Linked DNA regions of Homo sapiens: region 1 is linked to region 2. Evidence: fine-mapped expression QTL. Tissue or cell type: whole blood. Region 2 holds a variant in brackets; the other region holds the start of a gene. All regions are shown on one strand. Distances are between the middles of the regions. Region 1 holds the start of RAB5A (RAB5A, member RAS oncogene family). Region 2 overlaps RAB5A (RAB5A, member RAS oncogene family).

Evidence for each region.
Region 1: it holds the start of RAB5A, and the variant in region 2 is fine-mapped to the expression of RAB5A in whole blood (INTERVAL, PIP above 0.99).

What each region holds. Positions count from the first base shown.
Region 1 is chr3:19,937,624-19,950,671 of GRCh38, forward strand. RAB5A (RAB5A, member RAS oncogene family) reads left to right here and starts at 9,474. Exons shown (of 6, transcript NM_004162.5): 1 at 9,474-9,898. It also overlaps a transcript of EFHB not described here and the pseudogene HSPA8P18. RefSeq lists enhancers at 8,355-8,956, 9,367-9,536, 9,462-9,631, 9,493-9,542, 10,063-10,112 and 1 more.
Region 2 is chr3:19,979,394-19,992,441 of GRCh38, forward strand. It overlaps RAB5A (RAB5A, member RAS oncogene family), which reads left to right. Exons shown (of 6, transcript NM_004162.5): 6 at 4,315-5,782. The coding sequence ends at 4,430. It overlaps PP2D1 (protein phosphatase 2C like domain containing 1), which reads right to left. Exons shown (of 3, transcript NM_001252657.2): 3 at 5,953-6,789. The coding sequence ends at 5,987. Among named protein-coding and RNA genes, the nearest start is that of PP2D1, 26 kb to the right of the region's middle. The variant T/G (reference allele first, on the strand shown) is at 6,952.

The DNA.
Region 1 (13,048 bases), 42 kb before region 2:
ACAGTCAACATCCCTTAAGACTTTACCTCCAGAAAACTTTTCATGGCTGGTAAATACTCTTCTCTCTTTTCCTTTGAGCTCCTCCAGTACCAAGAGTCTGAGTCACTCACCTTATCACTTCTCTCTCTCAGACATACACACATACAACAAACGCTTGTGGCATATTTGTGGTATTTTACCTAACTTTCTGCCCTTCCCTTGGTTATAGCCCTGACCCTGGTACAAGATAACATTCAACATTTGTTACACTAAATTGTGACTGTCAGTGCTTCTGTCTCCTCCTCCCCTGAAGACTGTTAGCTCCTGCGGCCTGACAGTCCCTTGACTCAACTCCTCTCTACTTCAATGTTTTATGCTTTGACCCAAAAAGACGGGGCTTAGTAGTGAGAGAGGTGGAAGACTGAAGGGCATCCATCCGAACTTGTTTACTAACATTTATGTGTTCTTCCCTAGTTACCTGCCTCCATGCCTTTGCTGGAGAGGGAGCCACCTAGGTTCCCTTCACCTGGAATGTCTATTTTCACACATTCCAAACTCAAGGCCAACTCTGAAAGGAGAAAGGGCTGTGATTGACTGGGAAAGGACATGTGGCAACTTTCTGAGATTACGGTAGTGTTCCGTATCTCAATAGGGATGTGGATTACACAGGTATATACATTTGTCAAAACATGAAATTATACTCTTAAGACGCTTGCATTTACTTCATTTTATGGATATTTGAACTTTAAAAAGGTTCACATATTGAACTCTAGTAAATGGCATGCATGATGAAATGTTTAAAGGAATGTGTACACATGCTCATAATTTTGAAATGCATAAAGTGTTGATACATGGCTGGACATATGTGATAAAGCCAAGTGTAGTAAAATGCTAATTGTAGAATCTGGGTGGTAGATATATGGGTGTTCACAGTACAATTACTTTGATTTTCTGAATGTTTGAAAATGTTCATCATAAAATGTTAGGAAAAAAATAAGAGATGTGGGTCAACATCTCTGGTATCTTCACAGTCACAGACTTGATTTAGACCTCATTACATCTTAACTGGAATCTTGCAATCACCTTTACACTGGCCTTCATGTTAGCCCACTGCAGTCTCTCCTCACCCCAAGGATCGCCAGAGAGAACCTTCAGAAGCAAAAATTGGACCTCCGTGATCCAGTCTCTGCCAACCTCTTCAGCTTTATCCCTGACGCTTGCCACCTTACTGCGGCCTGTACTACAGCTCAACCCAGGGCGTGTAGTTCCACTCGCACACTGGGCTATTTTATGACTTTCTGGTTTGCTTTTGTTTTGTTTTTGAGAAGGAGTCTCACTCTGTCACCCAGGCTGCAGTGCAGTGGCACAATCTTGGCTCACTGCAACCTCTGTCTCCAGGGCTCAAGCGATTCTCCTGCCTCAGCCTCCCTTGTAGCTGAAACTACAGGCACCCGCCACCATGCCCAGCTAATTTTTGTACTTTCAGTAGAGACAGGGTTTCACCATGTTGGTCAGGCTGGTCTCAAACTCCTGACCTCAGGTGATCCACCTGCCTTGGCCTCCCAAAGTGCTGGATTACATGCACGAGTCAACATGCCCAGCCTACTTTATGACTTTCTGCTTTTGCCCCTGTTGTCCCCCTTGCTTGGAATGCTTTATTCCAACTCATCCTCTGCCCTCCTTGCCTGGTAAATGCTCTTCAAGACTCAACCCAGGGATTACTTCTTCCCAGTAGCACGTCTTGCCACTCAAACTGGGTTGGGTCTCCTTTTTTTTTTTTTTTTTTTTTTTTTTTTTTGGGATGGAGTCTCACTCTGTCGCGCCCAGGCTGGAGTGCAGTGGCGCGATCTTGGCTCACTGCAAGCTCCGCCTCCCGGGTTCACGCCATTCTCCCGCCTCAGCCTCTAGAGTAGCTGGGACTACAGGCGCCCGCCACCACACCCGGCTAATTTTTTGTATTTTTAGTAGCGATGGGGTTTCACCGTGTTAGCCAGGATGGTCTCTATCTCCTGACCTCGTGATCCGCCCGCCTCGACCTCCCAGAGTGCTGGGATTACAGGCGTGAACCACCGCACCCGCCCATGGGTCTCCCTCTTTCATGCTCCCATAGCACCTCAAACTTATTTGTAACAGTATTTATCCTACTATGATCTATGTGGGTTTCCATGTCTGTGTACTAAACTAGATGCTCCTTGAAGAGCAAGCCTTCTAATAGAATGCACAGGGTCTGATCTAAAAAAGGCTTTGATAAACCACTGTAAAACCGAACAATTGATATTGAACTGGCATGGATGACACTCTGGCACCCTCCAACAACTTAGTGTTATAGATTTGATTGTATCTCCTCTACAGGAGTTTAAGGCCCACTGCCCCTATTGACTCAGCCATCTTCCGACATCTCTCAAACACCACCTTCCTCATGAAGACTACTCAATTTCCTGCCCCAGTTTGGAATGATCTGTCCAATTCCTTTAAAGGCTTACTTTCTATGTACTTCTTTTTTTATGAGATTACAGGCCTTTTTAGGCAAATTTTGACTGGGAAAAATTAAACTACATTGACTGATCAAAAAAGAAAAAAAACTGCCACAGAATTTGCTACATATTTGGGTCCTTCAGTGTTTTAAGTGTGTGGAACAATGCTACATCTGTACTTGGGCTGGCTTATTCAGTGTTGGGCCCTGAGAAAGCACCATCAGAGGGAGGAGATCCACCAACAGTGAATCCCCTAGGCATTCCTCCTGCACTCTGCTAGAGCTTTGTAATGATGGGATTGCAGACTCTCTCCAGCTCTTTCTGCTGATGTTCAAATTCTTCCTTCTCAACAGCCTGATTCTTATCTATCCAGTTAATAATTTCATTACGCCTGACAAGAATCTTCTGTTTGTCTTCATCGTGAATCTTGCCTTGAAGTTTCTCATCTTCAACAGTTGCTTCCATGTTGAATTCATAGGATTCAAGGGAATTCTTTGATGACACCTGTCTCTGCTTCTCATCTTCAGCTTTGTACTATTCAGCCTCCTGGACCACACATTTAATGTCTTTCTTGCTAAAATGGCCCTTGTCATTAGTGACAGTAATCTTGTTCTTTTTCCTGTACTCTTGTGCACAGCAGAGACACTGAAGATGCCATTGGCATCAATATCAAATGTGACTTCAATGTGAGGAACACCTTGGAGTGCCAAAGGTATGCCTGTGAGTTGAAACTTGCCAAGCAGGTTGCTATCCTTGGTCATGACATGCTCACCTTCATAAACCTGAATAAGCACATCAGGCTGCCTGTCAGAGTAGGTAGTGAAGGTCTGTCTGCTTGGAAGGAATGGTAGTATTATGCTTAATGAGAACAGTCATGACTACACCATCGGTTTCAATACCATGGGAAGGAAGAATGACATACAAGAGCAACAAATCTTGAGCATTTTCAGATTTGTTGCCAGACAGAATGGCTGCTTGGACAGCTGCACCATAAGCAACAGCTTCATTAGGGCTGATGCTCTTATTCAGTTCTTTTCCATTGAAAAAGTCTTGGAGAAGCTTCTGAATCCTGGGGATAAAAGTAGAACCACCATCCAGGAAAATATCATGAATCTGTGACTTGTCTAGTTTGGTGTCTTGAAGGGCTTTCTCTATAGGGTCCAGGTGTCACAGAACAGGTCAGCATTCAGTTCTTCAAATAGGGCATGTGTAAGAGGTATAGACATTGATTCATTCATAGAGAAAATGGATCTCAATACTAGCCTGGCTGCTCAAGAAAGAGTGTACTTAGCATGTTCACAAGCAGTATGGGGATGTCAGACAGCTCTCTTATTCTCACTGATGTCCTTTGTATGCTTGTACTTGAACTCAGCAATAAAATGGTGGACCACTTGGTTGTCAGTGTTTTCCACCTAAGTGGGTGTCTCCTGCTGTAGATTTCACCTCAAAGATTCCATCCTCAACAGTGAGGACTGACACATTAAAAGTGCCACTTCCAGGTCAAGCGCAATGGCTCACGCCTGTAATCCTAGCACTTTGGGAGGCTGAGGCAGGCGGATCACCTGAGGTCAAGAGTTCAAGACCAGCCTGGCCAACATGGAAAAACCCCGTCTCTACTAAAAATACGAAAATTAGCTGGGCATGGTGGTGCATGCCTGTAATCCCAGCTACTCGGGAGGCTGAGGCACAAGAATCGCTTGAACCCGGGAGGCAGAGGTTGCAGTGAGCCAAGATTGCGCCACTGCACTCCAGCATGAGCAACAAGAGTGAGACTCCATCAAAAAAAAAAAAAAAAGGCCAGGAACAGTGGCTCACACCTGTAATCCCAGCACTTTGGGAGGCTGAGGGGGGGCAGATCACCTGAAGTCAGGTGTTTGAGACCAGCCTGGCCAACATGGTGAAACCACGTCTCTACTAAAAATACAAAAAAAATTACCCAGGCGTGGTGGTGGGCACCTGTAATCCTAACTACTCAGGAGGCTGAGGCAGGAGAATCACTTGAACCTGGGAGGCAGAGATTGCAGTGAGCCGAGATCGCACCACTCCAGCCTGGGTGACAGAGCGAGAATCCATCTCAAGAAAATAAATAAATAAAAATTTAAAAGTACCACTTCTAAGGTCAAAGATCAGCACATTTCATTGAGCTCCAACCTTTTGCCTAAGGCATAAGCAATAGAAGCAGCAGTTAGCTCATTGATAATTCTCAGTACATTGAGATAAGCAATAGTTCCAGCATCTTTGGTAGCTTTGATGCTGAGAATCATTAAACCAAGCTGATATTGTGACCACAGCATTGGTAACACTCTTTCCAAGGTAGGCTTCTGCCATTTCCTTCATCTTTGTCAGAATAACAGAGCAGCTGTCCCCAACCTTTTTGGCACCAGGGACCAGTTTCATGGAAGACAATTTTTCCACAGACCAAGTTGCAGGGGGTAGGATCGGGGGAAGATAGTTTTAGGACAATTCAAGCACATTACATTTATTGTGCACTTTATATTATTATTACATTGTAATATATAATGAAATAATTATATAACTCACCATAATGTACAATCAGTAGGAGCCCTGAACTTGTTTTCCTGCCACTAGACGGTCCCATCTGGAGGTGATGGAAGAGAGTGACAGATCATCAGGCATTAGATTGTCATAAGAAGTGCTAGATCCCTTGTGTGTGCAATTCACAATAGAGTTCACACTCCTATGAGAATCTAATGCTGCCACTGATCTGACAGGAGGGGGAGCTCAGGTGGTAATGTGAATGATGGGGAGCAGCTGTAAATACAGATGAAGCTTCACTGACTTGCTGCCACTCACCTCCTGCTGGGCAGCCAGTTCCTAACAGGCCACAGTCCAGTACCAGTCCATGGCCCTAGAGGACACCTTTCTGGACAGAAGTTTTTTTTATCTCTCCCTTGTATTCTACTTGGACCTTGGGCCTGCCAACATTATTCACTACCATGAAGGGCCAATGCTTCATATCAGACTGGACAACAGCATAATCAAGTCTGTGTCCAATCAGCAATCAGATTTGGCATCAAAAACTGTGTTCATGGGGTTCATTGCAACTTGATTCTTTGTGGCATCACTGAGCAATTGTTCAGTATCAGTAAAGGTGACATAGCTTGGAGTGATTCAATTTCCCTGATCATTGGCAATTACCTCTATTTTTACATGCTGGAAAACACCCACACAAGAGTAGATGGTGCCAAGATGAATACCAACTGCAGGTCCTTTAAACAGGGTTGTTTGCATGTAGGCCGGATTGGATTCTGAAGAAAGACATAGGAACCCCAAAAGTGGCCACAGCATTCAATAAATCCCCATAAATTCTTCAAATGACTTTGCAGTATGTAAATCCAGGTAAGGGCTCATTCAATTCATTCATTCATTCTACAAACAGGTATTGAGTCCCTCCCTATTTTGTGTCAGTGTTGGGAATACAGTTAGCCCTCTGTATTCCATCGAAAGTATTTGAGTTAAAAAATGAAAAAAACACAAAATAATACAAATTAAAAAAATACAACTATTTACATATCATTTACATTGTATTACTTATTGTAAGTAATCTGAAGATGATTTAAAGCATACAGAATAGCCTACATGCAAATACTACACCATTTTACATGAGACTAGAGCATCTGCAAATTTTGGTACCCATATGGTGGGGGAATAAGGGAGTGTCCAAGAACCAATCACAAGCAGATGGACTGACTGTATAACCCAACCCCTATCTCATGGAGCTTATATTCTAGTAGGGATAGATAACCATTAAGTGGAACGATGCGTAATATCATATCAAATGGTGCTAAGTGTTATGAAGACAATGCATAATATCATATCAAACAGTGCTGTTATGAAGACAACAGACTACTTCGATATGTAACAAAGCATTTAGAATTAGTGGGCTTAGAAGTCCCTTAGGTAGATGACATTTGAGCTGAAGCCTGAATGATGCCCTCCAAAGACACAAGCTTTTGAAACATGACTAGCTTAAGTTTTCACAGCCTTTTATTCACTGACTTGCTACTACGCCAATGTTAGAGTTACCGTTGGTTTGTCTCCAGGAAAAATTTTGAATTGTCTCCAGACAGTTCCAGTTAAAAGTAAATGTAACCATTCATTATCATCTATGCAAAGATTCATTCTTTAGCTACACAAGGGAGGACAGATTTCCTGGAAGAGAAGGAAAAGGTTATGGGATCCTGTGAATGGTAGAGAGACACCTGCCACTGGGAATTTGTTATTGAGTATTTAGAGATTTGAGGGCAGTATAAGCATCAAAGACAGTGTTTAAGTCTTCATGATTATTTATCCATTTTGTACCTTCCTTAACAAGTTCTATCAACTGGTAGGACTCCACATTTGACACTAAAATATATACAATTATCAGTCCTCCTCAGTTATCTGGGGCTATGAAAAAGAAAACATAGGCATATTGCAAGTGGCAATAAAACAACAGAGCTTTACTGTGTCATTTCAATTTCTCTAAAACTACTACCGGATCTTTAGAAATGCCAGCCACCAGGGCAGCACTCTTCCAGGCAAACATTATGACTAAACTGTAAAATATTGTGAAAAGTATTCATGAAGGAGGTGAAGACAAAATCACTAAACAGGAACGAGTGAAGAAGCAACATACTGGAACGATGAAATAGGGAGTTTTTTGCAATTTATAAATTTCAGCATCAAATGTTTTTCATTGTGAGGTCTTCTTAATGTTCGTGATTCTAAATGTAATTAAGTTCACCAATACTTTGGGGGTCCCTATTATAGCAGTCAAGGGTCTTCTGTGAAGAACTGAAATGATGAATAACTGATGGTCACAGCCCTTAAAAACCTTATAATTCAATGAAAGGCTAAGGAGAAAAGTCCAGGTGCTCATTAGCTATTAAAATAAGGCAGATTTTAAGACAGCCATTATACAGAGTAAGGCAAAGTATTGTGAAATTACAGAAAAAATAATAATTGAATCCAGTAGAAGTATCTGCAGATGCGGTCCAAAGGAACTGGTGTCCTGGCTAAGACGGAGCCAGCAGTTATGGGCAATGATAGTGTTCCATGTGGAGAAAATAAAGTGATCAGATACCAAGATGGCAACACACAGGCAATATTCAGGGAACACAGACCAGATACGTGTGATCAGGGAACAAATAAAGAGTATGGGGAGAGGAATTCTATAGAAATAGAATGAAAGAAACTTGGGTTGGGACTAGAGTTAAAGAACTTTAGACTGTCAAGTAATGACATAGCATTGAACATTTTTTAGTAGAGTGGCTAAAATGTAAAGAATGGACAGAAAGAACAGCAGTATGCATTAATTTCAGTTTATATAAACACTACCATGGACCAGGTGTTGGGATTAGACTTCAAATTTGGGGATTAGATAATTTGTTGATAGAATGGACAATGGTTTGTGAGGAGAAGAAAGAGGTGAAGCTGATTCTGCAGTTCCAAGTCTGGGTGACTGGGAGGATGTTAATGCCAGTCTCTAAGCAGAAGCAGGTTTGGAGTGGAATAGGTTTCGTTTTGGGCATACTGTTGACATGACAAAACTGATGTCACATATCCTATTTCCTGACTCCTCCTGGGATTGTCCCAGAGCTATTACCATGATTAATAGTTCATATTGAACAACTCCTTGAGAATAAAATGCCACAGGTATCATTTACGTATGACACATTACGTTCTTCTGGCAACTAGGTAGTTGATCTGAAAGACGGGCTGTTCAAAGTTCAAATCATCTTAATTGCACAATGCCGCCGACTGTACGCCCATAAGATACCTTAACCCGGTACACTTCAAAGACAATATTCTCGCCCTTACAACAGAGCTATACATTGTAAACTGCAAACTGAAAAGTAGCCTTTATTCTGAAGGAAAATCAATTTAATATTCTTCCACTAAATTATCAAAACAATTTTTTTGGCGGAGGCTGGGGAGGGGGTGGTGGCTGAAGCCTCGCCAGAGACTGAATGTGGTGTGGGATTCAACTAAAGCAGCACATCTTCAGTAGGTCCCCCGTGGAGGGTAACGAACATCTTGGGTTGTCTTTCACCAGAATTGTGTTCAACAACTCACGTTCTGGAGCCAACCCGCCGCAGATCAGAATCCAGCTTCTGCACCACACAGCCGTGATCTCGGACAAGTTACTCAATCTCTTGTGTCTCAAATTCTTTACCTATAAAACATCTACAACTAGAACTGAAGACTTGGCTGCCAGGCACTGGGCTAGACATAGATTTACAGCGGTGAGGACCACCAAGGGGAGCTAAAATTCGAATGTAGGGAACAGACGATTAACAAGTTAGTTTCAGAATGAAAGACTCGAGTGTAAGAATTCAATGGGATAATTCCTGTAAAGCGTTTAGTACAGTAAAGAGCGAAGGGAAATTCTGAATAAAAGGCAGACACTATTTTAGGATTTGGCCTTCCCCGCCCCCTACCAAAACCACGTAAACTCTTAACAGAAGCGACTTCTTATTGTCAGGCGCCTAAAGGCGGCTTTTGGGATAGGGAGGGTCCTTTCTTCCTCCTTGGGGTAAATGCGATTTAGCAGCCTTTACCGACCTACCCAACCCCAGGGCCATTTTGTGGGAGGAGGTTCTCTCGTGCTAGACAAGTTCCCTCTAATAAAGCCCCTTAGCCGAGATGCCAGGATTGGGGTTAGGGAACCTCGCCGCTCCCACAAGGGCTGGGCACAAAAAACAAACAAAAAAACACAAGTTATTTTGATCTTCCCCCAAAGAATAGTAAAGGAATTTCCCCCGACCCCGGCCGCCAGGAGCCCAGAGACCCCCCAGCCTAAATAACAATGGCGCTGGAGAGGGCGTGGCCGCGCGTACCTGGGGTGGGGGAAGGGGAGAAAGGCGGCCAGTTCGGATCTGAGCCACTCGCAGGGTCACGTGACATCCTGCCTCGCCCCGCCCCGCGAACAAACCTAGGCGGGGAGGGATTCGGGAAGGGGCGAGGAAGCGGAAGGAGCAGGCGGACTGGCGATGATGGGAAGTGACGAAGTGGCGCAGTTCGCTGCGTGCAGCGACGTGGCGGCGGGGCCGGCACCGGGCAGCGGAAGTGGCTCCGGCGGTGGGACTTGAGTGTTTGTGTTTTGGTTCGTGAAGGAGCCGGCGGCTGGCCTTAGGGGAGGAGGCAGAGGGAGGAGGAGGAGGAAGAATTAGTCGGAACTCCAGCGCCGGCGGCGGCGGCGGCGGCGGAGGAGGAGAAAGGAAAGAGGAAGGGGGAGCGGCGAGAGGCGGAGACGGAGCCCGACAGGGGCGGCACCACGGCACGAGCCCCGCACAGTCCAGTGTGAGGGGAGCGGCGCTAAGAGCAGGCGACGCCGCCGCCGCCACCACCACCGCCATAGATACACTCTCATCCTACGGGCCACGCCTGGGCCTTGCTGCCAGGAAGCTTCGGCCCCGCAGCTCGGCTTGCTGCGGTCTCAGGTAACCGAACCGCCCCTCCTCCTGCGCAGCGGGGGCCTGGACCCCAGGTTATCCGCGGTCCCCAGCCTGTCCGCGGCCCTGCCGGTACTGAGACCCCCCACCCCTTCTCCCTCACGCGCAGCAGTGCCCTGGACCAGAGAACTATCGAACCCGGCGTCTTGTTCTGCCAGCCCTGGTGACTCATCCTCCAGGGGCTCTGGAGACCGGGATTTGGGGACTGACTGAGGGAGCGACGGGTGTCACCCTTTCCCTTCTCAAGATGGCGCCGTGGAAAGTGTACTGGAGGCCGCGGTTCCGCCTGGTCTCCGTCCTGGCAGTCCTGGGGGTCTCGGTCAAAGCAAGGCAGGTTCGGGGGAGGAGGTTGGAAAGGCCAAGGGACCTGGCGAGTGCTGCTTATCCAGGCGATCTGTAGTTGGCTATTAGCTACTCAGGTGCTCTCCAAGCAGGAACCTGGGCCTACTGCAGGTGTCAATGTGGGGAGCTCCGCCTATCTTCAACTTCCAAAGATGAGTAGTGTCGGTGGGTGGGAGGCTCGTCAAAATAGGCTGTCTAGAGACTTGTTTTCTGTTTGGAAGGTAGTGAACTACAGCGTTAAATAAATTCAAGATAACAGGACCGCTGAACTCCTTCACTGGGTAGAGACCATGGAACTTGCTCTGGCGTTATCTTCCCTGGAAGCTGCTTACCTCTGAGACTTTCAAACTTGTTAAGTTCTGAACGTCATAGTTCACATACTTGGTTTTTGTCTTGCTTAAATGGAATCAAAGCGTTCAATCAGTTGCCTTTCACATAATAAGAAAAAAACACTTGTACACCTCTGGGAATACTCAAGACTGCTCATAAACTTTATTCCTAAAGTAAAATGGAAGTGATAACTCAGCATTTGTATAAACAAAGTAAATGGAACAGTGCCTGGCACAAAATAAGTGCCCAGTCAATTTTTTGATCAAAGAACCCTTAGAAGGATTTTAACTATAGAATGAATAACAGTTATTTTCAAAAGATTACAAATGTATATTATGCAAAATTCTTGTTTTGCAAAACAGAAGTTTCAGTAAGCAGTGAATACAAATGAATGCACGTAATTTTTAACCTTAGTGTTATGCTAAGTGTATATTTACCATTAACTTTAGTTATTTCCTGTTTGAGATCCTTAGGGGGAGTAGCCACAATTAAGTAGCTTTAAACCTTAAAAGTCAAAGTGAAATCAGAATCTTGTTTGATTTTTTTTTTTAATGGGAGTCTGATATTTTCCCTAAAATTTTGGAAGTGCCGTAGAAATTTGGAGCATATTGTCCTTGATAAGTAATTTCTTGTTTTCTTAAATAAAAAGACAAATGGAAAATGTTTTGATTGTGTGTAATATCTGAAGATGTATTGGTGCATTTTCAGTATATATGATGTTCTATTGATATTTTATCATTTTCTTATCAAAGGAGCACATTATTGGCAATTTCAATCCCTACTATGTATATTAGAGATTGTTTACATGTATTGTTTTATTTAATTGTCACATCAGCTATGCAAGTTAGATATTATGGGAATAGAAACTTGGAAATTAAAGAGTTTGCCCAGACGGAAATTGGTATAGCCAGGATTACACCCCTAAATCTGGTATGTTTGTGGAGGAGGGGGCATTTTTATTTATACCTTGTTATTTGGAAGCAACTCAGATATTACGTCAATAAATCTGTAAATATTTCAGTATGTAATGGTAAAAGATAAGGACTCTAAAAAGCTGGTGTTTAGTTAAGGCAAGGAGGTAGTTTCATTGCCTTAAGAACTAAGATCTCGTGGACATGTTAGGGAATTCATTATGAAGAGCGTATTATAAGCTCATTTTATGGGAAAGGCATATTTCTTTCTTTTGTTTTTAATATAGAGACAGGGTCTCACTGTGTTGCCCAGGCTGGTCTCAGAGTCCTCCTGCCTCACCCCCAAAGTGTTGGGATTTACCGGTATAAGCCACTCTGTCCAGTGTGAAAGACGTATTTCTTATATGAGGTAGCTAAATGAAATATAGCAGGGTTTTTAGAGAGGGAATCATCAGGTTTAATATATTAGCATGTATTCGGATTTTGATTAAAGATAGAAGGAAACTGTTAAGATTGGTTTGTGAGTGGATTGAAAAAGGTTCTTCAAATATTCACTAATTCCTTAGAGATTAAAAATTAGCATAGAAGTCGCCATTCAGGCTAGATTTCTTTAATGTGTTGTTTAAATAAAAAATAATGGCCTGCAGGCTGGGCGTGGTGGCTCACACCTGTAATCCCAGCACTTTGCGAGGCTGAGGCAGGAGGATTGCTTGAGCCCGAGAGTTCAGGATCATCCTGGGCAACATAGCAGTTAAGTGTCTCTACCAAAAAATTAGCCTGGCATGGTTCTGAGCGCCTGTAGTCTCAGCTACTCAGGAGGTTGAGGCAGGAGGATTGCTTGAGCCCAGGAGGTCTAGGTTGCAGTGAGCTGTGACCACGCCACTGCACTCCAGCCTGGGTGAGAGAGCAAAACCCTTTCTCCAAAAAAATTTTTTTAAAAATGGCATGTATATTGTTCGTCTAAAGACTACAAAAAAGTTACAATTATTGTAAGTAAATAAGTCAGTAATAATCACCACATGGAGAACAACTGTTAGCATTTCTGTGTATGGTGTGCTTGAGCAGATGAGGAAACAGTTTTAAGTCTGCCGTTAGGCACACAAACCTGGGAGACTGAAAATATTTGTTGTCCAAAATTACCATTAATTAAATGAAAAATGCATCGTTTAACAGAAAACTTCAAATAATACTAAATTTTAGGATCTGTTCTAAAAGTTTCCCATTTATTAATAACATAATTTTTCTCAAAACAATGTTAATCCAAGTAGCCTGGCTACAGAACTTGAACTCGAGTCATCTCTCAGGTTGCCTGGGTTTGAAACTCGGCTCTGTCACTTCTGTGACAATAACTGTGTGACCTCAATTAAGCTTCTTAACATCTCTGTGCTTGTTTCCTCATTTATAAGGATTGTAATAATATCTCATTTTATAGGATTGTTGAGAAGTTAAGTACTTAAAGCACTGCCTGGCACAAACTTGAAGCTTTGAGGTTAGCCTTTAAAAAAAAAAGTAATTTTGGACTCACATCCTATACCTTTGAATTTCCTTTAAAAGA
Region 2 (13,048 bases):
CTGCCTCAGCCTCTCCTGTAGCTGGGACTACAGGCACCCACCACCATGCCCGACTAATTTTTTTTGTATTTTTAGTAGAGACGGGGTTTCACCATGTTAGCCAGGATGGTCTCAATCTCCTGACCTTGTGATCCGCCCACGTCAGCCTCCCAAAGTGCTGGGATTACAGGCGCGAGCCACTGCCCCTGGCCCTAAGGTACTTTTAACTGATGGTAATTGCTGTTTCAGTTATAAGTAATGAAGTTGGAGTAGTAATAAGCCTCCTTTTTTCTATAACAAAAATAAAGGTTGGTTTTGTTTTTTGGTTTTGGATTTTTTTTTTAACCCTTTCCTCTTTCCAGTGGTTTTAATGTATAGATTCTACCTGAAGGGTCTGTTTTGGTGGTTCTCAAAGTTTGCCGTCTGTGGTTTTCATGTGCCCAGCACTCTTCTCATCCCATAACACCTTTTATTTTACAGCACTGATTCTTAACTGGGGTGTTCACAGTCCTAACCCCAAGTAAGAAATATTCTTAAATTGAACTCATAAATAGTTAATAGCTGAATCAGAGAATAATGAAAACCCAGTAAAAGTTGCAAGTATTTTTATTATTTTTCACTAGGTGACAGAGTTTAATGGTACTTCATTCGAAATGGGAAAGAACTTGCCTTTTCTCATGTAAACTGTTTTCCTGAAAAACTCAAGTTTGCAGTTTGCTAGGGAAGTGCTGGCACAGTTGCGAAGGATTGTGTGATAATATACTCATTTTACAAATGTGACAGATGACACCCAGAATCACATCTGAAAAGTTAGAGGAAACAATGAGTTAATAGGCCTCTCAAATCAGCCTGCACTGTAAACCTTTCTCACAATATTTAAACTCTACCAGATGGGCTTTAGTTTGTACCTTTTTATTCAAACATGCTAATAAAGTCATTTTTCGAGTTAGAAAGCAGCCTACATATTTTAGTTTTTTGTTTTTTTCTGAAATCAGAATGTTGCACTTCTTAAAAGAAAATCTATGTTGTAAATGGAATTGTGGCCTTTCCATTTCCTTCACTAGGTTAGTAAATTTTTTTTTCTTTTTTTTTTTGTTATGAAGGAACACTTTGATAGATTAGTAACTTAAATCACACAGTGCACTCATAACAACTCTAATCAATGCAAGGACTAAAAAGTTACTCGTTCTAGTTTACCTCCTTCATCCTCTTAATCTCACTCACCTCTGATTTAAACACTTAGGGAACATGCTAAAGGGATACATGATTGATTACTCAATCTGGAACCTAAGTTGTTATTATATACAATATATAGTGCTATTTTGTGTCCCAGGTACCAGTGTTCAACATTTCTGGGGCTTTGCTTGTAAATACATTTGACTGGAGATTTACCATTATAATGCTATTTATGCTACCAGCCCAGAGCCAGTCCCAGAGAAGTGGCCCAATTGAAGGCTTTCTTTCCAAACTTCAGTGCTCCTGGCTCCCAAATCCATTGCCCAACCCAGCATCTAGGATTCTAAAAATGATTGATGCTGATGTAGAATGGAATGTGTAGAACAAATAAAGGATAAAAGGTTCACAATGCAACTAGGCAATCCGATCTCAAAGCAGAGTGTATTCAATTTCTGAGTAACCTGAGTCAAAGCTATGGTAAAGTTAGAGTCTTACCATAGTGGTCTGTCCCCAAGATTGATAGAGATCAGTGTGTGCAGCCACTCTTAAAATCAGTACTCTTAGTCATCTTTAATATTCTGCCTCCCCTCAAAAAATGAATTTAGCACATCAAGGATCTTATGTATTAAAACAAACTACAGCAATCTCCAACTTTACAGTGGTTTGACTTACGATTTTATAACTCGATGGGGTGAAAGTGATATGCATTTAGTACATTCTTAACTTACTACGGGATTACATACAGAAACCCATCATAAATTAAAAATATCATAAATCAGGCTGGGCGCAGTGGCTCACTACCTGTAATCCCAGCACTTTGGGAGGCCAAGGCGGGCTATCACCTGAGGTCAGGAGTTGGTCAGGAAACAAGCCGGGCCAACATGTCGAAACCCCGTCTCTACTAAAAATAGAAAAATTAGCTGGGTGTGGTGGTATGTGCCTGTAGTCCCAGCTACTTGGGAGGCTGAGGCAGGGGAATTGCTTGAACCCAGGAGGCAGAGGTTGTAGCGAGCTGAGATCGTGCCACTGCACTCCAGCCTGGGTGACAGAGCGAGACTCCGCCTCAAAAAAAAAAAAATCATAAATCAAAAACATACAACTTAGGATGGATATATCAGGATGTAGCCCCATTGTAAGTCAAGGAGCATCTGTATATCCAGCAGGTAAGTTTTTTTAATCAGTGGGAAGCACACTCCAGAGAACAGCCACTAGCTGTATAGAGCTTGGCAGAGGTAAAGCCGTAACTGCTGGTTGAGAGTGTTGTCTGAATTTGACAAGCCACACTCATCGGACTCAAATAAAATTAAGAAATAGTTTTTGGAGATGAGGTCTTCAGGATAATTCTATCTGGATTAGGTACAGCTACTGGTCAGTCAGATTAGGATTCATCAGCCCATAAAAGGAGAAAATGAGGTTGGTTGAGGTGGCTCACTCCTATAATCCCAATACTTTGAGAGGCCACGGTGGGATGATCTTCAAGGCCAGGAGTTCTAGACCAGCCTGGGCAACAGAGCAAGACCCTATCTCTACCAAAAAAAAAAAGCCAGGCATGGTGGTGCACACCCTGTAGTCTCAGCTACTTGGAAAGCTGAGGTGGGAGGATCTTTTGAGCCCAGGAGTTCAAGGCTGCAGTGAGCTATGATTGATGCACCACACTCTAACTTGGGCTACAGAGGGAGACCTTGTCTCCAAAATGAAAAGAAGTATGGCTGCAGGCTACATTCAAACTAAGATCACAACGAAGTGTTGAGTATGTATAAATGTATGTGGATATGTTTGTGTCTAAGTGTATTTCCACTAGCATGCTAAGGTATGTTTGTGTGTGAGTATGTTTCCTCCAGTATGCTAAGTTTTGACACATGCAGGCATCTAACTTGGGTGTTATCTGTCCTTCCTTTGCCCAAAGCATAGATTATAATTGTTCATTCTCAAAAATGCAACTCTTATCTATTTCCCCTTTATTTGAAGGCAGCTGATGGTTACTCTGCAAGGTGTAAGTTTCTCTTTTAAAAACTAAGCGGTCGAGCATGGTGGCTCATGCTTGCAGTCCCAGCACGTGGGAGTCTGAGGCGGAAGAGTTGCTTGAGCCCAAGAGTTCAAGACCAGCCTAGGCAACAAAGTGAGACCCCATCTCACTTTGGAACTCAGGACTGCAGTAAGCCATGATCATACCACTGCACTTAATCCTGGGTGACAGAGTGAGACCTTGTCTCTTAAAAAAAAAAAAAAAGAGAGCATGTATATAGATGTTTTAAGGCCAAAGGCTGTGGAAGCCAGGAAGGAAATAGTAGATATGATCTATCACAATTCGGGGTGATAATTAGTTGCACAGTAGAGGACAAGTTTTGTTGGGGTGATGATTGCAAAGGTATTTGTATCCTGACTTGTTCTAAAAAATGTTTGTGGCAGTCTAGAGAACGCTGATATGAGCTGAGCTTCTTTATAAACTTACTGGCTGGCCATCATCTTTATTGACTTAGATTTTATTTAATAGAAGTAATAATGAGGCCAGGTGCCATGGCTCACGCCTATAATCCCAACACTTTGGGAGGCTGAAGCAGGTGGATCACCTGAGGTCAGGAGTTCAAGATCAGCCTGGGCAACATGGTGAAACCCCGTCTCTACTAAAAAACAAAAATTAGCTGGGTGTGGTGGGGCATGCCTGTAATTCCAGCTACTCGAGAGGCCAAGGCACGAGAATCACTTGAACCCAGGAGGTGGAGGTTGCAGTGAACTGAGATCACGCCATTGCACTCCAGCCTAGGTGAGCCTGGGTGACAGAGTGAGACTACATCTCAAAAAAAAAAAAAAAAAAGAAGTAATAATGAGTATAAAATAAAATAGAACTTTTCTGGTATTATTGAGTGAATCGGTATAGAGAATTACATAAAGCACTAGTTAGGCTTAAGTTTTAATTGTATCTACAACCAGTCCCCATCTACCGTTCCCCCAACACAATTACCCCAGAAATCAAACTCCCTAAGACAGCAACCAATATTTTGGCATTCAATACTCAGTAAACATTTGAAAAGAATGAACATATGGTTATATGATACTTTGGGGGTAACCTAACTGGAAAGAAAAATTATAGATAAGCAGGTGAAACTGATATTAATATGAGTATTCAAATATTCTATTTATTTGATCATTTTCTTTCAGCTAAAAAATTGCCAAAGAATGAACCACAAAATCCAGGAGCAAATTCTGCCAGAGGAAGAGGAGTAGACCTTACCGAACCCACACAACCAACCAGGAATCAGTGTTGTAGTAACTAAACCTCTAGTTTGAACTAGCTGGAATAGTCTTCTGCTTCCTAAATGTTAATAACAATGGAATTGGAGCATTTAACCAGCCCAGTATGACTTCCAAAAGAAGAGACTTATGATAGAGTCAAGTTTCTAATACAGAATTATTTTAAGTGTTTTGAACTTAATTTTTAATAACATGCATGGGTCCCTCTCACTAATGTTTCAACAATAGGGAAAAATGAGAACTATGTGGACACTTGTTTCATTGGAAGGTTAGGGGGAATAATTTCTCATCACTAGGAATATAGACAAATGACTGTCTGGGCCCACACAGTTAACCAGCCCATTTCTCCACACTGGTACAGTAGTCACCTGTGAAAAAAAAATTGGAACTTACTAATTTGGGCTTTTCAAAAACATTCTTTGTTTAGAAGGAGATTCTAAAGTTATTTATGATGCTTAGCCATAGTATTCAGGCAAATGTTCATTTCTCCTGGTACCTGTATTTAAAATGTACATTCCACATTTTAATAAATTAACCACAAGAAAATAATCCCACATATACAAGGTCAGGGGTGGGGAAGAGTATTAATGGTATCTTAATTATACCCAGTCTGGTTTTTTTTTTTTAAATGGGGTAAAAATCAAATGCAACCCCATCTTGTTTTAGGAATTTTGAGAACTAATAAATGCACCTTAATGGTCAGTGTTCCTTTCAAACATGTGAGTTCTTTAACAAAAATGAAATAAACCAGGTGTCTGTGATTTCTAATTAATCACCGCTGGCCATTACACAGGTTTTGTTGTTTGGGGTGGGGAGGGGGCTTTTGTTCCCTTTTGACATAATATAGTCAATGCACTAACAATTATGTATATTCAAACTTGATTATTTTAAATTCGATCTTCAGCTGTACTGTAAATAGGGTACTGCATTGTAGTCTCCATATCTGTATTACTTTTCTGTAATATTTAAGAGTTGCTTAAAAGCATACAAAATGTACTGTTACTAAAACAGCTAATTATTTCTCTCTCCCCCTTTGACAGGAAGGGGCTTCAGTTGTTCCTCCATGGCTAGAACCATAATAAACAATGTACCCGTAATTTGTAACATAAAGTATTGCAATATGTTAGTAACAATCTTGCAGCCTTCCTTTCCAAAGTTCATTTTATTTTGATCAGTTCAGTATATTGCACTAATTATTTTAGGTATTTTCATTATATGAAAGCTACCATGTGTCAGAGATGATTTAATCTATTTAAGTGTTGGACTGCTAGGAGAACTTGTACATTTATGATAATGCAGAATTAGGAAAACGGTTCACCAGTGTTTAGTTTTATATTGAGGTGCTCAGGTTGGAATAAAGTGGTATAAAAAGCAAGTATCGGCTTTTCTCTTTTCCTTTTTTTTGGCATAAAACAGTGAATATATATAAATGATACTATATGACCTAGTATCCGCTTTTATATTTTCTTTACTATGTTCATAAAATTATTTGCATGGTATTGATGAATCATCCTAATAGCTGGATCATTGAAGAATCACTTTATATTTTGGTGCTCTGGATAATTGGAACTTTATTTTTTTATGTCAGAAGCTGATATTCACTTCCATTGAGAAATATTACCATAACTGTAATGTTGTCTCTGGAGCCAGCCAGTAAAGCAGCATTTACAAGTTCATGGCTAACATACTCAGCTGCGCCTTCATAGAAACTCTTAGTGTCTGATTCTTTTTCATTTGTTGCCACATCATTTACACTAGTTGGTCTGTCAGTTACTTTTTCACTGCAAGGTTTACGATGAGTCGTTTCTGCTGGAAATGTTTCTACATTCTCAGGGTTATAAATACAGTATTTAGAATAGTTTGAATCGGATAAATTTTCTTTGGAATTTGTAGTTGACACACGTACTTCAGATACAGATTTATACTGAAACAATACGTGGATATTACTCTGTGATTTAGTAAGGTTTGGTTCACTGGTTGAAAAAAGCAGAGGCCCTTTGGATGGTGATTTGTTAGGTATGATAGGACAGTATGTTTCTTTATACATGTGAAATGTTGTCATTGCCAGGGCAGTAACTTCCTCTTTATCCAAAACTTCCCAAAGTCCATTAGTAGCTACAATAAGGAATTGACATAGGTCATCTATAGGGACAGAAATAGTTTGAGGTGCTGGGATAATGGATTTTTTCAGCTTGAGATTTCCATGAAATCCAAGTCCTCGTGTAGTTTTTACTTGCCCCTCTACAAGCCCGTATGGTTCATTTGAACTAATGACTGCTCCATTCTGAAGTATTCTTCTTCTTTCATTTGTGTTTCGTGTAGTATGTTCTTTGGTTAGGCAAAAACCTTTCCCATTTCTGCATAAGACTGCTTGCACATTACCTAAAAGATTATTTTTTAAAAGAAGAAATTTTTATCCTAGAGATAACCAATTGTATCAAAATCTACTGCTAACTTTAGTAAATTCTGTGTTTCAATGCTAAACAGAAAGCAGGCTATGTAAAAGTACGTTTAAATATGTGTAATATATCACTACTGAATGAT[T/G]TACAGTAAATACAGATTTCAAACAGGTCAATTTATCCCTCATTGTTAAGCAGCTTTTAGTGTTTAAAACTATTACATTTAGTATTAACATTACAGATAATGCAAAGTAACTTCTAAATTTTGAAATGAAATGACTTAATATTACTCACATTGCAGAGTCATGAGTTGAACTTTTTTATAGCCAACATATATTCCATCTAGGAGATTTTTAAATGTTTTTAAGATAAATGCTTTTTCAATTTAAAACACAAACTTTGATTTTTTAAAAAGAATGACAGTTGTGTAACCAGTACAAGTTAAAACTTGAATATACTTAGGTCATGGGTGATGAAAAAATTAGAATGTCACTATTAATGTTAGTCTTAACTAGGTTGCTATAATGTGTAGATTCTAAAATTTAAGTCAATCCGCCAGGTGTGGTGGCTCAAGCCTTTAATCCCAGCACTTTGGGAGGCCGAGGTGGGCGGATCACCTGAGGTCAGGCGTTCGAGACCAGCCTGACCAACATGGAGAAACCCCATCTCTACTAAAAATACAAAAAATTAGCCGGACGTGGTGGCCATGTTCCTGTAATCTCAGCTACTTGGGAGGCTGAGGCAGGAGAATTGCTTGAACCCGGGAGGTGGAGGTTGTGGTGAGCTGAGATGATGCCATTGCACTCCAGCCTGGGCAACAAGAGCAAAAATCTGCCTCAAAAAAAAAAAAAAAAATCATTCCTGTGGAGAAATATGTTGTTAATGTATTACATGAATAATAGGCAGCCAACATTAAACCCTTTGGTTGGAAACTGAAATCTTAAAAGTTGATTGTAGTTTGTCCGTGGTTCAAATGAATCTGTGATGGTGTGCTTCATTGAAATCTTACAGTTTAAACATGATCTGAACAGATTGCAGGGTGGTTATATATTACTGTAACTTTTTTTGGTGTATTTTTTAAGAACCACTGAATTTTTTTAGTTTGTTAGGAAAAATTGATTTTCCCCAAGTTTTTAGGAATATAATTACGTATTTTTTAAATTACATATAATTACATATTGTTTTTCTTGATATTAAATCATTTATGATTTATAGAAAGTTATTAAACTTCTGAGATGGGGTTAATGATATTTGAATATTATAACATCTTTGAGATTTAAAATTCCTGGAATAGGAAGCCAAATTTACATAGAATATTCTGGTTTTAAATATGATATTGTACCTGGGATCATTTAGTTGCTTGCAGGAGGAGTTCAATTCTAGGCCCACAGTTTTTTACGTATTTAGGCTTAGAAGGTTGAGGTCCAAGGCCAGGTATGGTGGCTTACACCTGTAATCGCCACTCTTTGGGAGGCTGAGGCAGGCAAATCACTTGAAGCCAGAAGTTTGAGACCAGCTGGGGCAATATGGCAAAGCCCCATCTCTACTAAAAACACAAAAAAATTAGTCGGGCGTTGTTGCGGGAAGTCAGGGACCCTGAACAGAGGGACTGGCTGAAGCCATGGCAGAAGAACATAAATTGTGAAGATTTAATGGACATTTATTAGTTCCCCAAGTTAATACTTCTATAATTTCTTACGCATGTCTTTACTGCAATCTCTGAACATAAATTGTGAAGATTTCATGGACATTTATCACTTCCCCAGTCAGTACTCATAATTTCTTATGTCTGTCTTTAATCTCTTAATCCTGTCATCTTCGTAAGCTGGGGTTGTATGTCGCTTCAGGACCCTGTGATGATTGCGTTAACTGCACAAATTGTTCATAAACCATGTGTGTTTAAACAATATGAAATCTGGACACCTTGAAAAAAGAGCAGGATAACAGCGATGTTCAGGGAACAAGGGAGATAACCATCAGGTATCACTGCCTGAGAGCTAGGCGGAACAGAGCCATATTTCTCTTCTTACAAAAGCAAATAGGAGAAATACCGCTCAATTCTTTTTCTCAGCAAGGAACAGCCCTGAGAAAGAGAATGCATTCCTAGGGGGAGGTCTCTGAAATGGCCTCTCTGGGAATGTCTCTTGTACGGTTGCACATAAGGGATGAAATAAGCCCCAGTCTCCTGTAGCACCCCCAGGCCTTTTAGGATGAGGAAATTCCCGCCTAGTAAATTTTAGACCTGTTGTCTGCTCTCAAACCCTGTCTCCTGATAAGATGTTATCAATGACAATGCATGCCCAAAACTTCATTAGCAATTTTAATTTCACCCAGGTCCTGTGATCTCGTTCTGCCCCCATTTGCCTTGTGATATTTTATTGCCTTGTGAAGCATGTGATCTCTGTGACCCACACCTTATTCGTACACTCCCTCCCGTTTGAAAATCACTAATAAAAACTTGCTGGTTTTGTGGCTTGAGGGGGCATCACGGAACCTGCTGACGTGTGATGTCTCCCCCGGACACCCAGCTTTAAAATTTCTGTCTTTACTGTACTCTTTCCCTTTATTTCTGAGACCGACGGACACTTAGGGAAATAGGAAAGAACCTACATGAAATATTGGGGGTGGTTCCCCCGATAGGGCATGGTGGCACATGCACACCTGTAATCCCAGTTACTTGGGAGGCTGAGGCACAAGAACTGCCTCTACACAGGAGGTGGAGGTTGCAGTAATACGAAGTCACGCCACTACACTCCAGCCTGGGTGACAAAGCAAGACTCTCTCAAAAAAAAACAAAAAAGGTTGAGGTCCATGCAACTAGTATAGTGGTATAATTGGAAAGCCTAAATTGGTGGCCAGTGTGGTGGCTCATGCCTGTAATTGCAGCACTCTGGGAGGCTGAGGCAGGAGGATCACTTGAGGCCAGGAGTTTGAGACCAGCCTGGCCAACATGGCGAAACTCTGTCTCTACTAAATACAAAAATTAGCCGGGCGTGATGGTGCACACCTGTAATCCCAGCTACTCAGGAGGCTGAGGCACAAGAATTGTTTGAACCCGGGAGGCAGAGGTTGCAGTGAGTCGAGATCGCATCACTGCACTTCAGTCTGCGCGACAGAGTGAGACTCAAAAAAAGCCTAAATTGGTAAAGCATTAGTGTCAGATATAGACAGAAACTGTTGTCTCATTTATATAATAGGAATTTTTAATAGCTGAGCTACTGGATTGGGACTAAAAGATGGTGTTTGTGAAAAACATTTTGGAAACTACATACATAGTTCTAAAGGCTATATGGCCCCTCATTTCTTTATAGTTTGGTTATTAATATTGTGTGTTAACTTGTCTTACTGTTGATTATTCGACTTAGATTTTGCAGAACATAAGTCAGTAAAATCTTGACTTTTGCTGGATTATAAATTATTACTGAATCAGCAAGACAACATGAAGTGGCACTTAATGTGACAACTGAGTAAATGGAATTGTTAGTACATATGGTTCAGTACCTCTTAAATGAGAAAAATTTTTACGTGTGTGCATACATACGAATTGTACGGCCATAGCTCTGAAAACGAAAGGGACATAGTTTGGCTCACAATAGTCAAATCTATTGACTTTGTAAATGTTCATTTGCATGTGGCAAGTCAAAGGCCATTTAGCAAAAAGAAAAAGCATTATTTTCCTAGTATGTGATTTGAAAAGAATTTAATAGAAATATGTACTTACAATGGAAGGATGGTAAACAGGTTATTTTTATTTTAGTTACCTCTGCAGAGAGCTTGACAAGTGTAGCGTTATGCACTATTTGCCTTTTTTTTTTCCTGTGCTACAGAGTAGGACATACCATGTTGGCCCATTTTATTACTTGTGAACATCCTTTGGATTCAGCACAATAAAATATTCTAGGAGAAAGGACATTAAATCCTGGTTGCAGTTCTTCCTCTACCTGTTAAAAAGGGAGATAATGCGAGACAGGGTTTCACTCTGTCACCCAGGCTGGAGTGCAGTGGCATGATCACGGCTTACTGCAGCCTTGACCTCCCTGGGCTCAGGTGATCCTCCCACCTCAGCCTCCCGAGAGCTGGGACTAAAGGCATGTTCCACCACACCTGGCTAATTTCTGCATTTTTTTGTAGAGACAGGCTTTCGCTATGTTGCCCGGGCTGGTCTCAAACTCCTGGGCTCAATCGATCCTCCCAAAATGCTTGGTTTCCCAAAATGCTGGGATTACAAGTGCCAGTCACTGCACCCAGCAGCACATTGTTTACCTGTATGAATGGTGCATGAAGGAAAGAAAAAGTGAAGGAGAAGTAGCCAGCGTTTCTTAACTATTTGTGTATCTAACCCAGGAAGCAGAGGGTGAGATTCATCAGGAAGACTACTAATGGAACGAACTAAAAAACTAGATGTGCAGAGTCAATAGTTTCATTTTGTAACAATGAGTGGCATATGCTGTCAGCTACAAACAGGGTGTTTGAAGTCAAGTGCTATATTAAACTGAAAGCTTGAACAGAATAATGAACAAAAGGTTTCCATGAAGATGGGAAATTAGAGGAAGATTTTTTTTTTTTTTTTTGCGGAGTCTTGCTCTGTTGCCCAGGCTGGAGTGCAGTGGCGCGATCTCGGCTCACTGCAAGTAGAGGAAGATTATTAAATATCACTGTTATGTCCACATAGTCTGGAGAAGTGGAGAGGAACCAGCCTTCAATAGTTTAAGAGAAAGGACAATTTGACTTTTGAAAAAGTTTATTGGTAACACCTGTTTGGAGGAAATGCGAACAGCTAACCAAGCAATGAACTGTGTTGAAGACCACTACACAATTTTAATCTAAGCATAAATGAATTCCTAGACAAAGGTAACAGCTTTCAGTATTTGGAGAGATTGCGCTCTTCAGAAAATGTTATCAGAACAAAAATGGAACAGGATTACTGGAAGAGCAACGTGTTTAGGAACAATAATCTTGGGGATTAAAAAGAGCCGCTTGGAGATGATGCTCAAGCCTTTTTAAAGTGGCATAGTCAGGTACAGTGTTTCTTATGCAGAGGGTAATGATGTGGCTGCCTCCTGCAATTACTGGGTTATCACCAACTTTTGTGAAAAGGAAAAGTCCAGTAAACTTACAGAGTGAACTCTGGAATCCCAACCAGGGACTTCTAGAGCTGAGTAGGCAATATCAACATTTTTCTCAGATAAAGCCAGAAAGGTGACTTAGTGTTGATTAAAACAAGAGAGTTTAAAGAAAGAATGAGAGAAGAGGAAAAGAAACTTTATGTGGTGGTCAGAAAAAGACATACCTATATACGTGATGGGTGAAGCAGGAAAAATAAAAACACACCTAGGATGCACAACGTTGCCAGGGGTAATAAGGACAGTTTGGTGTAGAAAAACAGTATGGGGAGTGGAAGGATTTAGGAGCCTGACAGTCAGACTTTAACCCCAAACTTTTGTCTATGTGGCCTTCATTAGGTCACTTTATTTCACTAAGTAACAGGTTTTCACCTGCAGTGTTGTCAAAGTTATTGTGAGACTCAATAAGCTAATTTAAGAGGTAGACACTTGGAACACTTATTTAGTGTTCCAAGAAGAGAAAAGCAGGTAGAGAGGCTATTCAAAAGAAATTGAGGGGAAATGAAAAATGTTTCATTTCAGACCCATTTATAAAAGAATTATAAGAAAATGCGAAGTAGAATTACAGGCTTAAGATAGTAGGCAGTGGTAACTTGGAACTTAGGGAAAATTGAAATAGTTACTGGGGAAAGGAAAAATTACAATTGTAAAGGAGCATAGGTAAATTAGGATTGCATGTAAATAAGGTTAGGGGAAACAGTCTGTATCCAGTTTTTCTTCAGTGCTGTAGTTTCAGCAAAAGAGGCTGAATTTGTTTAATTTTATGCATGGACAGGAGCTTTGTGACTTCCTAAGAATGGTTAGCATAAGAGTCTTATTCATGTTGAACTAGCTTTCATTGGATGTTCAAAATGTCCTTTTGTTTTATAGATGTGTGATCATGAAATTCATGTCCATTGTTCATTGCTCACCATTGTACCCCTAAAGCCTAACTATATTACGCACAAGTCTCAACTATGTGTGAAATATTTGTTGAATGTGTTCTCAGAATCAGGTTTGTAAGCATGTGAGAGTTCCTCAGCACCACCATCAAAAAAAACGGAGAAGGGGAAGGGAAGGTATATAAAATGTCAGTGTTAAGAATTTGGCTTTTTTCCTGCACAAAATTGAAGGAGATTC